Regions from separate parts of the Homo sapiens genome. Here region 2 is linked to region 1. A link means that fine-mapping ties the variant in region 1 to the expression of a gene that starts in the linked region. Tissue or cell type: nucleus accumbens. Region 1 holds a variant in brackets; the other region holds the start of a gene. All regions are shown on one strand. Distances are between the middles of the regions.

The links. PIP is the estimated chance that this variant, and not a neighbour inherited with it, causes the effect.
Region 2: CRCP starts here. The variant in region 1 is fine-mapped to the expression of CRCP in nucleus accumbens (GTEx, PIP above 0.99).

What each region holds. Positions count from the first base shown.
Region 1 is chr7:66,977,553-66,985,655 of GRCh38, forward strand. It overlaps the pseudogene RN7SL43P. Among named protein-coding and RNA genes, the nearest start is that of SBDS, 14 kb to the right of the region's middle. The variant A/AC (reference allele first, on the strand shown) is at 4,793.
Region 2 is chr7:66,110,431-66,118,533 of GRCh38, forward strand. It overlaps CRCP (CGRP receptor component), which reads left to right and starts at 4,417. Exons shown (of 6, transcript NM_014478.5): 1 at 4,417-4,540. The coding sequence starts at 4,533. RefSeq lists silencers at 3,293-3,483, 4,912-5,206 and enhancers at 4,130-4,259, 4,797-5,325.

The sequences.
Region 1 (8,103 bases):
AGCTCACCGCAACCTCCGTCTCACGGGTTCAAGCAATTCTCCTGCCTCAGCCTCCCGAGTAGCTGGAATTACAGGCATGCGCCACCATGCCCAGCTAATTTTGTATTTTTGGTAGAGACAGGGTTTCTCCATGTTGGTCAGGCTGGTCTCGAACTCCTGACCTCAAGTGATCCGCCTGCCTTGGCCTCCCAACTTGCTGGGATTACAGGCCTGAGCCACCGCCTGGCCTCAAAGCTTCTTTTGTTAAAGGTTTGGGCTATTTTTTAGTAACTTTTAGTCTCATTGCATTTTTTCCCAGCTTCCTTTCCTTTTTTTTTTTTTTTAATTGAGACCGAGTCTTGCTTTGTTACCGAGGTTGGAGTGCAGTGATAAAATCTTGGCTCACGCCAACCTCCACCTCTCAGGTTCAAGCGATTCTCCTGCCTCAGCCTCCCAAGTAGCTGGGATTACAGGTGCCCACCACCACGCCCGGCTAATTTTTGTATTTTTAGTAGAGATGGCATTTCACCATGTTGGCAAGGCTGGTCTCGAACTCCTCACCTCAAGTGATATGCCTGCCTCAGCCTCCCAAGTGCTGGGATTATAGGCATGAGCCACCGCACCCAGCGCTTTCCTTTTCTCTTGATGTGACTTGCTAAACCACTTGACAAAGAAGCTGAGGTTATTAGGCTTTTCTTTTCACAAATAAGGTGAATGAATCATAAGCCCATGTCTGCTGCTTTATTTACTGAATTAGTGTTCTAAAAATAAAACAGCACTCTTTAAGTCCAACATTTATACCTAAATTCTGGGCCCTGAAATGTAATTGTGCACCTGGGCCCGTATTTAACTTCAAATTCTCCATCTGTGTAAGATGCATAATACCAGGTCTACTATGCAGACAGTTACGGTAAGTCAGACGATGTCTGAAAAACACTTGAGACACACAGTTGCCATGTTCTGTGTACTGACGGAAAGTATGAAATTAGCAAAACATGCAGGGAATATTCAGCTGTATTCATTACTGTGTTTGGGCAAAATACGGTAAAGAAATTGCTCAGCATAGTTTCTCTGAAGATGTTTGGGTATACTTAGTATGCTTTGCAAACCTTGGAATTGGATTTAATTTTTACTTAGAGAATTAAGCATCTAATTATTGCCACAAAAAATAGTAGATTAAGGCCATGCACAGTGGCTCACGCCTGTAATCCTAGCACTTTGGGAGGCTGAGGCAGGTGGATCACCTGGGTTCAAGGGTTCGAGACCAGCGTGGCCACTGTGATGAAACCCCGTCTCTAATAAAAAAAAAAAATTTAGCTGGGCATGGTAGGGGGCGCCTGTAATCCCAGCTACTTGGGAAGCTGAGGCAGGAGAATCACTTGAACCCAGGAGGCGGAGATTGCAGTGAGGAGAGATTGCCCCACTGCACTCCAGCCTGGGCAACAGAGCGAGACTCTGTCTCAAACAAACAAACAAAATAGTAGATTAAGTTTGGGCAACATAGGAAGACCCTGTCCCTACAAAAAGTTAAAATAATTAGCTAGGCGTGGTGGCACAAGCCTGTAGTTCCAGCAACTCTGGAGGCTGAGGCAGGAGGATTGATTGAACCTAAGAGTTCTAGGCTGCAGAGAGCTATGATTGCACCACTGCACTCTGTTACAGATGTATACATGTACTGAGTCATGATGGAAAATGGATTGATTTAGAAATGTTTGGGTATGATGGCTTGCTCATTGCCCTTCTATGGTTCACTATAGCTTAGGCTATTTGGAGAAAAGCAAAACATTTGAAAGCTGAAACATTCAAAACATTCAAAGATTCAAAGCTGAAATCTGTGATCCATGCCATGAAACTCAAGGAAAAAAAAATGCGGCAGTTATTTTAGTGGCACCAAGTCCTGGGGCTCCTGGATCCCAGCCTAGGAGGAGAGGGACGTGAAGAAAAGTAAGGGCCAGCACATTTTGACTGTTCTGGGGAAAAGGAACTGCAGCAAGAAGTAACTGCTCTGCTCAAAACATTCCTATTCTCTCTCTCTCTCGTCTCACTCTGTCACTCAGGCTGGAGTGCAGTGGTGCGATCTCGGCTCACTGCAACCTGTGCCTCCTGGGTTCATGTGATTCTCCTGCCTCAGTCTCCCTAGTAGTTGGGATTACAGGTACCTACCACCACTCCCAGCTAATTTTTTGTATTTTTAGTAGAGAAGGGATTTCACCATTTTGGCCAGGCTGGCCTCGAACTCCTGACCTTGGGTGATCCGCCTGCCTCAGCCTTCCAAAATGCTGGGATTATAGGCATGAGCCAACGCGCCTGGCCAGCCTCTCTTTATTGGGAGCTTTCCATCCACTCTCCATCTCTTCTGCCTTTTCTTTTTAAATCTCCTCATCACTTCCTTGCAAACTCTCCATGCCTCCTAGTGCCTGAGGTAGGTATAAGACAGCTTGAAACCAGTAATCTACAATTCTTTCCTGGGCTTTCCGTTCTCACAACAGAGTCTGTGTCACCTGCTAAGGTACTGAAACTGACTCAGTTCTTTCATAGAGCAGATGTTTATGGTTTCTTTTGAATAAACATAGAAATTGACACTTCTAGCCTGGTGTGGTGGAGTGTGCTGGTATTCCCAGCTACTTGGGAGGCTGAGGCGGGAGGATCCTTTGAGCCCAGGAGTTCTGGGCTGTAGTGCGCTATGCCAATCAGGTGTCTGCACTAAGTTTAGCATCAACTTCCTGGGAGTGGGGGACCACCAGGTTGCTTAAGGAGGGGTTAACCAGTTCAGGTCGGAGACTGAGCAGGTCAAAACTCCTGTGCTGATGAGTAGTGGCATCACGCCTGTGAATAGCCACTGCACTTCAGCCTGGGCAACATAGTGAGACCCTGTCTCAAAACAAAACAAAAGCAAAAGCAAAAAGAGAAACAAATTGACCTTTCCAGTCTTGAAATTTGAGAAAGTGACATTTGCCTTATCTGAGTTCCTTTCTCAGGAAATCAACCATCAAGCCTCCCAGATGGTATCAAGGAACTGAAACTTACCAGATCACTGCATTTGGACAATGAGATGCAGAACCCCTCATCTGTCATAATGGCCTAACAGACCACCTGCTGCCTGTTGATCAACTCCTCTTCCTTACCCCTCCCTAATTCCTGTTTTACTGCATGTAGTTACATTTCTTCCTTCCTATATAAACCTCTAATTTTAGTTGGTCAGGGAGACAAATTTGAAACTGATCTCCCATCTCCTTGGCTGGAGCACCCAATTAAAGCCTTCTTCCCTGGCACTACTGATTGGCTTTCTGTGCAGCAAGCGGCAGGACCTACACCAAACCCCTGGCATTTTGGCAACAGCACTGGTCATGCTAGGGAAAAAGTTCAAGATCTCAACTTCCAAGACCCAGGGAAGCCTCTCACAATTTCTAAAGGGCAGGGCAGAAGAGATCTTTGAAAGTGAATCTGAATGAGAATAAAAGTGCAGTTTCACTTTAAATTTTCCAAAAAGCTTATTAAATTGGTATTTTCATATGCTTTTGAAAACTTTATTTATTTATTTATTTAGAGACAGAGTCTCACTCTGTCACCTAGGTTGGAGTGCAGTGGCGTGCTCTCGTCTCACTGCAACCTCTGCCTTTCAGGCTCAAGCGATTCTCCTGCCTCAGCCTCCTGAGTAGCTGGGATTACAGGTGGCACCACCACCATGCCCAGCTAATTTTTGTATTTTTTTTTTTTTTTGAGACAGATTTCGCTAGTTTCGCCCTTGTTGCCCAGGCTGGAGTGCGATGGTGCAAACTTGGCTCACTGCAACCTCCACCTCCCTGGTTCAAGTGATTCTCCTGCCTCAGCCTCCCAAGTACGTGGGATTACAGGTGCCCACCACCACATCCAGCTGATTTTTTGTGTTTTAGTGGATATGGGGTTTCACCATGTTGGCGAGGCTGGTCTTGAACTCCTGTCCTCAAGTGATCCACCAGCCTTGGCATCCCAGAAGGATGGGATTATAGGCATGAGCCACTGCGCCTGGCCTAATTTTTATATTTTCAGTAGAGATGAGGTTTCACCACATTGGCCAGGCTGGTCTCGAACTCCTGACCTCAGGTGATCCGCCTACCTCTGCCTCCCAAAGTGCTGGGATTGCAGGCATGAGCTACCGTGACTGGCTGAAAACTTTATTTCAAAACTAATCATGCTGGTTGTAATATGCTTGTGTAGGTTACATGTATATTTTTCCACAGATTTTTCTATGCTCTTTCAACCGTATATACACCTGTACACACATATTTAGGGTTTTTCCTCCAAAAAAGTGACAAAAATGGGATCACGCCATAATACATTCCTCCATAGTTTTATTCCCTCTTCCATCTCTACCCCTCCTCCACTTATTACCATGGACATCCCTGTAGGACATACGGGAAGATGTCTCATTTGTTAAAATATACTTAATATTCCACAATAGGCTGGGTGCAGTTGCCCACACCTGTAATCCCAGCACTTTTGGGAGGCTGAGATGGGCCGGATCACCTGAGGTCAGGAGTTCAAAACCAGCCTGGCCAAAATAGGGATACCCTGTCTTTACTAAAAGTACAAAAATTAGCCAGGCATGGTGATGCGTGCCTGTAGTCCCTGCTATTCAGGAGCTGAGGCAGGAAAATCACTTGAATCCGGGAGTTGGAGGTGGCAGTGAGCTGAGATTGCACTACTGCACTCCAACCTGGGCAACAGGGCGAGACTCCATCTCAAAAAAAAAAAAAAAAAAAAAAAAAAATCCACAATAAGTAGATGTTACAATTCATTTAACTATAGGTTGAGTATCCCTAATCTGAAAAAA[A/AC]CCCCAAATTAGAAACATAATGCTCAAAGGAAATGGTCCCTGAGCATTTTGATTTTTGAATTTTTGAATTAGGCATGAAAATATGCCAAAATCTGAAAAAATATCTGAAATTTTAAATACTTATTTCCCAAGCATTTGGAATAAGTGATACTCAGCCTATATTTGCTATTGATGGCCATTTTCAGTTTTTACTAATACAAGCAGAAAATAACATTAGAATTTAGGTAATTTTATTTCTGGCAGATAGATGCCTAAAGAGCAATCAATTGCTGTATCAAATGGTGCACATGGCCAGGTACAGTGGTTCATGCCTATAATCTCAGGGCTTTGGGAGGTCGGGGTGGTAGGATTGCTTGAGGCCAGGAGTTTGAGACCAGCCTGAGCAACATAGCAAGGCTCTGTATCTACGAAAAATAAAAAAAAATTAGCCGGGCATGGTGGTGCCTGCCTGTCTTCCCAGGTACTCAGGAGGCTGAGGTGGGAGGATCACTTGAGCCAGGGAGGTTGAGGCTGTAGTGAGCAGTGATCTTGCTACTGCACTCCAGCCTGGGCGACAGAGCAAGACCCTCCTCCTGCAACAACAACAACAAAAAAAAGTGCACATATTTAAAAATTTTAAGATACCACCAGGCCAGGTGCAGTGGCTCATGCCGTAATCCCAGCACTTTGGGAGGCTGAGGCAGGTGGATCTCCTGAGGTCAAGAGTTTGAGACCTGGCCAGGCATGGTGGCTCACTCTTGTAATCCCAGCACTTTGGGAGGCTGAGGCAGGCGGATCATGAGGTCAGGAGTTCGAGACCAGCCTGGTCAACACAGTGAAACCCCGTCTCTACTAAAAATATAAAAATTAGCTGGGCATGGAGGCGGGTGCCTGTAATCCCAGCTACTGGGGAGGCTGAGGCATGAGAATTGCTTGAACCTGGGAGGTGGAGGTTGCAATGAGCCGAGATCACGCCACTGCACTCCAGCCTGGGTGACAGAGCTAGACTTCATTTCAAAAAAACAAAACAAAACAAAAAAACAGAGTTTGAGACCAGCCTGGCCAACATGGTGAAACCTCGTCTCTACTAAAAATACAAAAAAAAAAAAAAATTATCTGGGCGTGGTGGCATGCACCTGTAATCCCAGCTACTTGGAGAGGCTGAGGCAGGAGAATCGCTTGAACCCAGGAAGCAGAGTTTGCAGTGAGCCAAGATCGTGCCACTGTACTCCAGCCTAGGCAACAAAGGGAGACTCCATCACAAAAAAAGATACCACCAAATTACTTTCTTGAAAGGTTAGAGCCAGTTATGCTTCTATCAGTAAATGCATGAACGTGCCTGTTCCTTCACTTCCTTGCCAATATCACAATTAATCTCTTACCTTTTCTTCAATATGATGGGTAGAAAATGATTTCTCATTGTTTAGCATTTCTCTGAGAGAAGCTGAATATCCTATTTTGCATTTAATTTTAAATTAATGTGTCAATTTTCCCCATGCTTAGGGGTGAATATTAGACCTTTTTCTTGGTTGGTCATAACTTATTGGCATTTTACCTGTCTTACCTGTTGCACATATTTTCTCCTAGCCATAATTTTTTTTTTTTTTTTTTTTTTTTTTTTGAGACAGAGTCTTATTCTCTGTCGCCTAGGCTGGAGTGCAATGGCACAATGTCAGCTCACTGCATCCTCCGCTTCCTGGGCTCAAGAGATTCTTCTGCCTCAGCTTCCTGAGTAGCTGGGATTACAGGCGCGTGCCACCATGCTCAGATAATTTTTTTTTTTTTTGTATTTTTAGTAGAGACAGGGTTTTACCATGTTGCCCAGGCTGGTATTGAACTCCTGACTTAAAGTGATCCACCAGCTTTGGCCTCCCAAAGTGCTGGGATTACAGGCATGAGCCACTGTGCCTAGCTGAGCCATAATATCTTTAAACTTTTTTCTTGAGACAGGGTCTCACTGTGTTGCCTAGGCTGAGTGCAGTGGCCTGATCATGGTTCACTGCATCCTCAACCTCTCAGGCTCAAGCAATCCTCCTACCTCAGCCTTTCTAGTAGCTGGGACTACAGGCATGTGTCATTATACCCAGTTAATTCTTTTTTTTTTTTTTTTGAGACGGAGTCTTGTTCTGTCGCCTAGGCTCAGGCTGGAGTGCTATGGTGCAATCTCAACTCACTGCAACCTTTGCCTCCCGGGTTCAAGCGATTCTCCTGCCTCAGGCTCCCAAGTAGCTGGGACTACAGGCACGTGCCACTACACCCGGCTAATTTTTTGTATTTTTAGTAGAGATGGGGTTTCACCGTGTTAGCCAGGCTGGTCTTGAACTTCTGACCTCAGGTGATCTGCCCGCCTCAACCTCCCAAGTGCTGGCATTACAGGCGTGAGCCACTGCACCCAGCCTACACCCAGTTAATTCTTTAATTTTTGTACAGACAGAGTCTTGCTATGTTGCTCAGGCTGGTCTTGAACTCCTGGACTCAAGCGATGCTCCTGCCTTGGTCTCCCAAAGTGCTGGGATTATAGGCATGAGCCACTGTGCCTGGACTCTTTAAACTTTCTTTAAAGTGTCTTCTGTCATTCTGAAATTTTACATTTTTATGTAGTTAAATCTGTTGGTATTTTCCTTGATAATTTTTAGGTTTCTGTTTTTCTTAAGAAAGTCTTTTAACCCTTAGGTTAAATATTTCCTTATATTTTCTACTAACTCACAGTTTTTTGTTGTTGTTGTTTGTTTGTTTTTTGAGATGGAGTCTCGCTCTGTCGCCCAGGCTGGAGTGCAGTGGTGTGATCTTGGCTCACTGCAATCTCCATCTTCCAGGGTCAAGTGATTCTCCTGCCTCAGCCTCCCGAGTAGCTGGGACTACAGACACGTGCCACCACTCCCGGCTAATTTTTTGTATTTTTAGTAGAGACGGGGTTTCACCGTGTTAGCCAGGATGGTCTCCATCTCCTGACATCGTGATCCGGCAGCCTTGGCCTCCCCAAGTGTTGAGATTACAGGTGTAAGCCAGTATCTGATAGTTTTATGTTTACATTTAGTTCTGATATAAAATATATTTTTTTTGAGATGGAGTTTTGCTCTTGTCACCCAGGCTGGAGTGTAGTGGCAGAATCTTGGCTCACTGCAACCTCTGCCTCCTAGGTTCAAGAGATTCTCTAGCCTCAGCCTCTTGAGCAGCTGGGATTACAGGCGGCCGCCACCATGCCCAGCTAATTTCTTTTTTTTTTTGAGTCAGCGTCTCGCTCTGTCACCCAGGCTGGAGTGCAGTGGCTCACTGCAACCTCTGCCTACCAGGTTCAAGTGATTCTCCTGCCTCAGCCTCCTGAGTAGCTG
Region 2 (8,103 bases), 870 kb before region 1:
TGCTTTTAATGATCCATGTGATTATGTTGATACCACATAGAAAATCCAGGATAATCTTTTCTTCTTAAGGTCCATACCCTTAATTGTCATGGTGATCAGCGACTATCCAGGACCAGAGGTGCAGACAGTAAAAAGAATGTTTACTCGGCTCACTGCAACCTCCGCTTCCCGGGCTCAAGTGGTTCTCCTACCTCAGTCTCCTGAGTAGCTGGGATTACAGGCGCCTGCCACCATGCCCGGCTAATTTTTGTATTTTCAGTAGAGATGAGGTTTCACCATGTTGGCCAGGCTGGTCTTGAACTCTTGGACTCAAGTGATCCACCCGCCTTGGCCTCCCGAAATGATGGGATGACAGGCATGAGCCACCGCACCTGGCCTACCGGGTATCATTCGAACACCCAGCTAACTCCCTACTCTAAGTCACACCTGAGCCATTTTATCATGGGGGCTGTCAGAGGCACTGCTGTTTTTCACTGAAGCCCATACCCAATCCCTCGGCCTCGTGTGCTTTTCCCTCACCCACTTCAAAGGCCCGTGGCTTTGGGACGCCTCTCCACCTCATTAGTCATTCCCTCCCCTGCCCATCGCGTCGAAACACAATGCATTGTGGTTATTTATGTCCAGAGCTGGTTCCTCAACTAGGCTGTCAGCTAGCCAGTGCAGAGGGTGTGTGTTAGTCACATTTGTATCATCAGCCCCCGATGGGCCATGGCTACATACTTGTTGAGTGAATAACACAAGGGGCATCTTTAGCATTTCTTTGTGGGGCCCAATCTCCTCAGCGAAGGTACAGGGAATTCTCCACACTAACTAGGCCAGCTGGGTCTGGGTGGCATTTTATGACTTTTTTGTTGTCGTTATTTTGCGATGGAGTCTTGCTCTGTCACCCAGGCTGGAGTGCAGTGGCGTGATCTGCAACCTCCGCCTCCCAGATTCAGACGATGCTCCTGCCTCAGCCTCCTGAGTAGCTACGATTACAGGCACGAGCCATCAAGCTGGTTAATTTCTATTTTTTTGGTAAAGATGAGGTTTCACCATGTTGCCCATGCTGGTCTCAAACTGGGCTCAAGCGATCCACCTGCCTTCATCTTCCAAAGTGCTGGGATTACAGGTGTGGACCACCACACTCAGCAGAGTAAAAAATGTTTAACAGCTTTATTAATATAGGATTAATATGCTGTACAATATGCCATTTAAAGTATACAACTCAGTGTCTTCAGTATATTCACAGGGTTGTGCAACCACCACCACCATCTATAATAATTTTAGACAATTTCTGTTTCCCAAAGAGAAACTCCCTACTTATTAGCAATCACTTCCCATCCTTGCCCCCAACCTAGCCTTCTGTCTGTATCCATAGATTGGCCTCTTCTTGGACATTCTATATAAAGTGAATCATACCATATGTATTCTTTTTTTTTTTTTTCTAGAAGGAGTCTCATTCTGTCACCCAGGCTGGAGTGCAGTGGCGTGATCTCGGCTCACTGCAACCTCCGCCTCCTGGGTTCAAGCAATTTTCCTGCCTCAGTCTCCCGAGTAGCTGGGATTACAGGTGCCCCCCACCACACCCAGCTACTTTTTGTATTTTTAGTAGAGACGGGGTTTCACCATGTTGGCTAGGCTGGTCTCGAACTACTGACCTCATGATCTGCCTGCCTCAGTCTCCTAAAGTGCTGGGATTACAGGCGTGAGCCACCACGCCTGGCGATTTTTGTATTTTCGGTAGAGACAGGGTTTCCCCATGTTAGCCAGGCTGGTCTTGAACTCCTGATCTCAGATGATCCACCCACCTCAGCCACCCAAAGTGCTGGGATTACAGGCGTGAGCCACCTGGCCAGGCAATATATATTATTTTGTGTCTGGCTTCTTTCACTTATTAATAGCATCATGTTTTGGGAGGTTATCCATCTTGCAGCATTTATCTATCAGTCTGTCTATATATATTTTTTGCAACAAGGTCTCTCACTCTGTAGGCTGGAGTGCAGTGGTGTGATCATAGTTCCCTGCAGCCTCTACCTTCTGGCTCAAGCGATTCTCCTACCTCAGCCTCCCCAGTAGCTGGGACTAGAGGTGCTCACCACCACACCTGGCTAACTTTTCGTAGTTAGGGGGTCTAGCTATGTTGCCCAGGCTGCTCTGGAACTCCTTGTCTCAAGAAATCCTCCTGCCTCTGCTCCCCAAAGTGCTGAGATCAAGCCTGGCCTCCTTTTTATTTTTATATTTTTGAGACAGAGTCTTGCCCTGTCTTCCAGGCTGGAGTGCAGTGGCACGATCTTGGCTCACTGCAAGCTCTGCCTTCTGGGTTCACGCCATTCTCCTGCCTCAGCCTCCCTAGTAGCTGGGACTACAGGCGCCCACCACCACGCCCGGCTAATTTTTTTTGTATTTTTAGTAGAGACGGGGTTTCACCCTGTTAGCCAGGATGGTCTCGATCTCCTGACATCGTGATCTGCCCGCCTCGGCCTCCCAAAGTGCTGGGATTACAGGCGTGAGCCACCGTGCCCGGCCAGCCTCCTTTTTAAGTAGTTTTCCATTGCACAAATGTAGCACATTTTATTCATCCACTCATCAGTCTCTAGTTAATGCATCTGTTGTATATGTTCAGATTGGCTGGGGTTCAATACCCACTGGACAACTTCCTAGATGAGTGACTTTTGGTAAATCATAATCTCTCCAAGTCTGCCTCAGTTTCTTCAATTATAAAATGTCAATAATAATGCAATGTACCTCATAGAGAGTCATGGTTGTATTGCCACAGTAATTAATAAAGTGCCAGGAACTTTATAAGGATTATTTAACACCCTTATTATTTACAAAGTAGGCAACAGAGGCTATTGTGGTGGTTCACACCTGTAATCCCAGCACTTTGGGAGTTGGAGGTGGGAGGATCACTTGAGGCGAGGAGTTCAAGACCAGCCTGGGCAACACAGTGAGACCCCCATCTCTACAAAAAAATTAAAAAATTTTGTAGCTGACTCTTTGGACAATAAAGAATTTTATTTTAGAAAATTAGCCAGGTGGCTGGGTGCAGTGGCTCACGCCTGTAATCCCAACACTTTGGGAGGCTGATGAGGGTGGATCACAAGGTCAGGAGTTCAAGACCAGCTTGGCCAAGATGGTGAAACCCCGTCTCTACTAAAAAAATACAAAAATTAGCTGGGCATTATGGCGGGCACCTGTAATCCTAGCTACTGGGGAGGCTGAGGCAGGGAACTGCTTGAATCCAGGAGGCAGAGGTTGCAATGAGCCGAGATCACGACACTGCACTCCAGCCTGGGCAACAGAGTGAGACTGATCTCAAAAAAAAAAAAAAAGAAAAAGAAAAAGAAAAAAAGAAAATTAGCCAGGTGTAGCGGAGCGCACCTGTGGTCCCAGCTACTCTGGCAGGCTGGGGTGGGAGGATTGCTTGAGCCCAGGAGTTCAAGGCTGCAGTGAGCTCTGATTGCACCACTGCATTCCAGCCTGGGCGACAGAGCAAGACCCTGTCTCTTAAAAAATAAATAAATAAACTGCAATGTTTCTGGCAGCCCAGATGCCACCAGCCTCACTACTCTCTGAGAGGTGGGATTTTAACATGCAAAGGCCCACTAACCCGATCACGTCTCACAACTTCAGCTGATTAATACTTTGTTAAAACCTAGACCACGAAAACAGACAGAGCCCGGCGAGGTGGCTCACGCCTGTAATCCCAACACTTTGGGAGGCCGAAGCGGGTGGATCACGAGGTCAGGAGTTCAAGACTAGCCTGGCCAAGATGATGAAACCCCGTCTCTACTAAAAAATACACAAATTAGCTAGGCGTTATGGCGGGCGCCTGTAATCCCAGCTACTCGGGAGGCTGAGGCAGGGAATTGCTTGAACCTGGGAGGCAGAGATTGCAGTGAGCCGAGATCGTGCCACTGCACTCCAGCCTGGGTGACAGAGCGAGACTCTGTCTCAAAAAAGAAAAAAAGAGGCTGGGCACGGTGCCTCACGCCTGTAATCCCAGGACTTTGGGAGGCCGAGGCGGGCGGATCACGAGGTCAGGAGATTGAAACCATCCTGGCTAACACGGTGAAACCCCGTCTCTACTAAAAACACAAAAAATTAGCCGGGCTTGGTGGCAAGCGCCTGTAGTCCCAGCTACTTGGGAGGCTGAGGCAGAAGGAGAATCGCTTGAACCCAGGAGGCGGAGGTTGCAGTAAGCCGAGATCCAGCCTGGGCGACAGAGCGAGACTCCGTCTCAAAAAAAAAAAAAGGTTAAAGAAAAAAAGAAAAGAAAACACAAGATAATCCTGTCCGCAAACGCTTAGCAGTCTTAAATCGGCCTGGTGGAAGGATGCAGGGACACTCCCCCACCCTGCCCCCCGAAAAAGGGGAACGCGCAGCGCGAGGTTCCGGGTCCGCCAAGCTCCCGGCATGCAGCGCGGCGATCCCGGCGAGCACCTTGGCGCGCGGAGCTGGCACCTTGGCGCTGTTGGTGGCGGCGGAGACAGCTGTGAAGTGTGAGGTTCTTTGTCTGCTGGCAGCTAGGGGCGACGAGGCGGGACGTCATGGAAGTGTAAGTCTTCTCGGGCGCGTCCCTTTTCGCCCGAGGAGCCCAACGGTTTGACCGCTGAGAGCTGAGAGCCGAGAGCCGTGGGGACTGGGCGACCCTCGTACGGGAGTGAGGGCAGCGGGCCGGCCCTGTCCGGGAGGGCCGCGGGGTGGTGACGGGGACGAACGGGACTCTCGCTTTGCCCTTCCGAACCTTCGCTTCCCCTCCACGCCGTGTCTGGTGCGGGGCCGAGCACTTCCGTGTCCGGCTGCCTTTCAATGTGCCCCCTCCTTCTCTCATTCGTTTACCAGCGTTTCTGGGTCACAGTGCGGGGGTGGAGCCCAGTCTGGTATCCGACCCCGGACTTAGAAGGCTATAAAGGCCTGAGTCTGTCCGCCCTGAAAGTAGGTGGAGGAGAGACGAATCAGGGCCGGGTAGAGCTCTGCTTGCAGCTGTAGGCCCCTGGAGAGCCCTCGGAAGAGCTGCCCTCGGAATTTGATGGGAGCAGTAAACACTGTGAGGGAAGGGGCTGGTTTTGGGGTGGAGAAGGGAAGGACGTGAACCAGGACTGGGACCAGAGAAACAGCAGGGGGTGTGTGGGTGTGTGTGCAAGGCGAGGGTAAAAGATTTTCTGACAGTTTAACTCCACGTGGTCTTTTCCATGCTTGCTCGTTGCGCCTGGTGCAAATGGAAGATTTTGCATCTACTCTGAATGTGGGCTTTATACGGTTGATATTAATTTGTAGGTATTACTATCTTGTGTTCTCTTTGAACTGATTATTTGATACAGTTTCCTTTATGTTCTTTTGCCTCATGTTTAATGGTTATATGTACTATGGCATTTCACATTTTTACATTTTTAATTAATTGTTTTTTCTTAAGAAACAGGGTCTTGCTCTGTCCCCCAGGCGGGGTGTAATCATGGTTCACTGCAGCCTCACTTTCTGGACTCAAGCAATCCTGCTTCAGCCTCTTCAGTAGCTGGGACTACAGGCCCACGCCATCACTCACCGCTAATTTTTTAAAAAAAGTTTTGTAGATGCAGGGTCTCACTACAGCCCAGGCTGGTCTCCAGCTCCTGAGCTCAAGTGATCCTCCTGCTTTGTACTCCCAAAGTCCTGGGATTGCAGGCGTGAGCCACTTCACCTGGCCTCTTCCGATTTTTTTTTAAACACAATATGTCTGTGTAACTGAAATGAAAGGCTCATGAAACAATAATGTGTGGCGTACACTCTCATATTGTCTATTTTTTATTAATATGAATGGGGCCAACCGTGGTGGCTCACACCAGCAATCCCAGCACTTTGGGAAGCTTAGGCAGAAGGATCACTTGAACCTGGGAGGTGGAGACCAGCCTGGGCAACATAGGGAGACCCTGTCTCTGCAAAAAATTAAGAAGTTAGCTGGGTGTGGTGGTTCATGCCTGTAGTCTCAGCTACTTACGAGGCTGAGATGGGAGGATCACTTGATCCCAGGAGGCTGCAATGAGCTGAGATAGAGCCACTACACTCCTGCCAGAGTGACAGTGTAAGGCTCTGTCTTAAAAAAAAAAAAAAAAAAAAATTGAACCACTGAATTAATTTTGCAACCCACTGATGGGATTTCATCTGCAACCTAAAAAACTATTCATATAATTTACTCTAGTCCAAGCCATCATTACTAATTTTTCCCTCTTTACTAGAGCATTTCCTGTGAGCATACAACCCTGCTTTAGAGAATTCATCTTAGAAAATCCTCCGTCCCCACATACATGTCCCCCTCTTACTCCATTTCTGCTTCCCATCCCAACAAAACTTCTTGAAAGTGCTGATTAGCCCCTCATTCTCTCAGCCATTCTGTTGGGCTTTCATCCTCACTGGTCTACGGGAATGACTGTTAAGATTACCTGAACCAGCGGGGCGTGGTGGCTCATGCCTATAATCGCAGCACTTTAGGAGGCCGAAGTGGGCGAATCCCCTGAGGTCAGGAGTTTGAGACCAGCCTGGCCAACATGGCATAACCTCCTCTCTACTAAAAATACAAAAATTAACTGGGTGTAGTGGTGGGCGCCTGTAATCCCAGTAACTCAGGAGGCTGAGGCAGGAGAATCGCTTGAACTCGGGAGGCAGGGGTTGCAGTGAACCAAATTGTGCCACTGCACTCCAGCCTAGGTGACAGGGCAAGACTGTCTCAAAAAAAAAAAAAAAAAAAACCTGATCCCTCCATCTTGTCAAATTCAGAGGTTGATTTTCTGGCCTCAACTTTCTTGATCTCTCAGCAGTGGTTAATACAGAAACTCTAGAAACTTTCCTTTTCTTGTGATGTATGTTCCTTTGCGTATTTCCTCCTACATCAAGGACTACTTCAGTGTCCTTCCCTGGGTCCCGTTCCTCTCTTGCTTGATGTCTAAGTGTTGAGTGGTATCTTAGGGCTCAGTCCTGGGACCCTTTCTCTCCACACTCTGTCATTTCACCCATCTATGTGCTGATGGTTCTCAAAGGTATGTTTCTAACCTTCTTCTCATCATCTATCCAATTGCATAGACCAAAAATCTAGCCCTCTCTCTTCACTCCCTAAATCCAGTCCATCAGTGGTCCTGTTGTTTCCACCCTAGAATATATTTTGAATGCAGTTACTTTTCACCATCTCCAATGTTAGCTTTGTAGTCCATCACCTCTGGGCTGGATTAAGCAATAGCCTTTGAGTGTTCACTCTTCCCCAGCCTCCATTCTGTTCTCCACATGGCAACTGGAGTGATCTTAAGTAATGATTGGAACATGTCGCTCCTGGGTAAAACCCTTCATTGACTTTCCATTGTACTTAGAGAAAATCTCCATCTCTTACCAGGACCTGCAAGACCCTGTAAAACCTCACCTACTCCCCAGCCTTACCACTTGCCACTCTCCCAACCTCCCAGACACACACTTTCCACTGACAGGTATTTCCTTCTCCTCTAACCTTCTAAGCACTTCCTGAGGACCATTGCGTTGTGGTACCCTCTGTCTGGTATACTTTCCTCCTCGCCCTCGTCCTGTTCTCTTCTTTTTATTGTTCTTTTTTTAGTTCGCTTTTGAGATGGAGTCTTGCTCTGTCACCCAGGCTGTAGTACAGTGGCGCAATGTCAGCTCACTGCAACCTGTGCCTCCAGGGTTCAAGATTCTCCTGCCTCAGCCTACCAAGTAGCTGGGATTACAGGCGTGTGCCACCACGCCCAGCTAATTTATGTATTTTTAGTAGAGACGGGGTTTCCATGTTGGCCAGACTGGTCTTGAATTCCTGACCTCAGGTGATTTGCCTGCCTCAGCCTCCCAAAGTGCTGGGATTACAGGCGTGAGCCACCACACCTGGCCACCTGTTCTTGAAGGTTGTGTCCCTTTTCAAAGTTGCCTTTCGTCTTCAGTAAGTCTAACTAACATAAGTTCTTTTTGTCTTTCATAGTACCTTGATTTACTTTCCCTCAAATAATTACAAGTTGCAATAATAAATGTATGTTTACTTGTTTGGAGGGTGGGGACCAGTGTCTGTTCACCTAGTGCTTAGCATTGCATCTGGCACACAGTAGGCATTCAGCAAATACTTGTTCAATAAAGTAATATAACAATACTTTA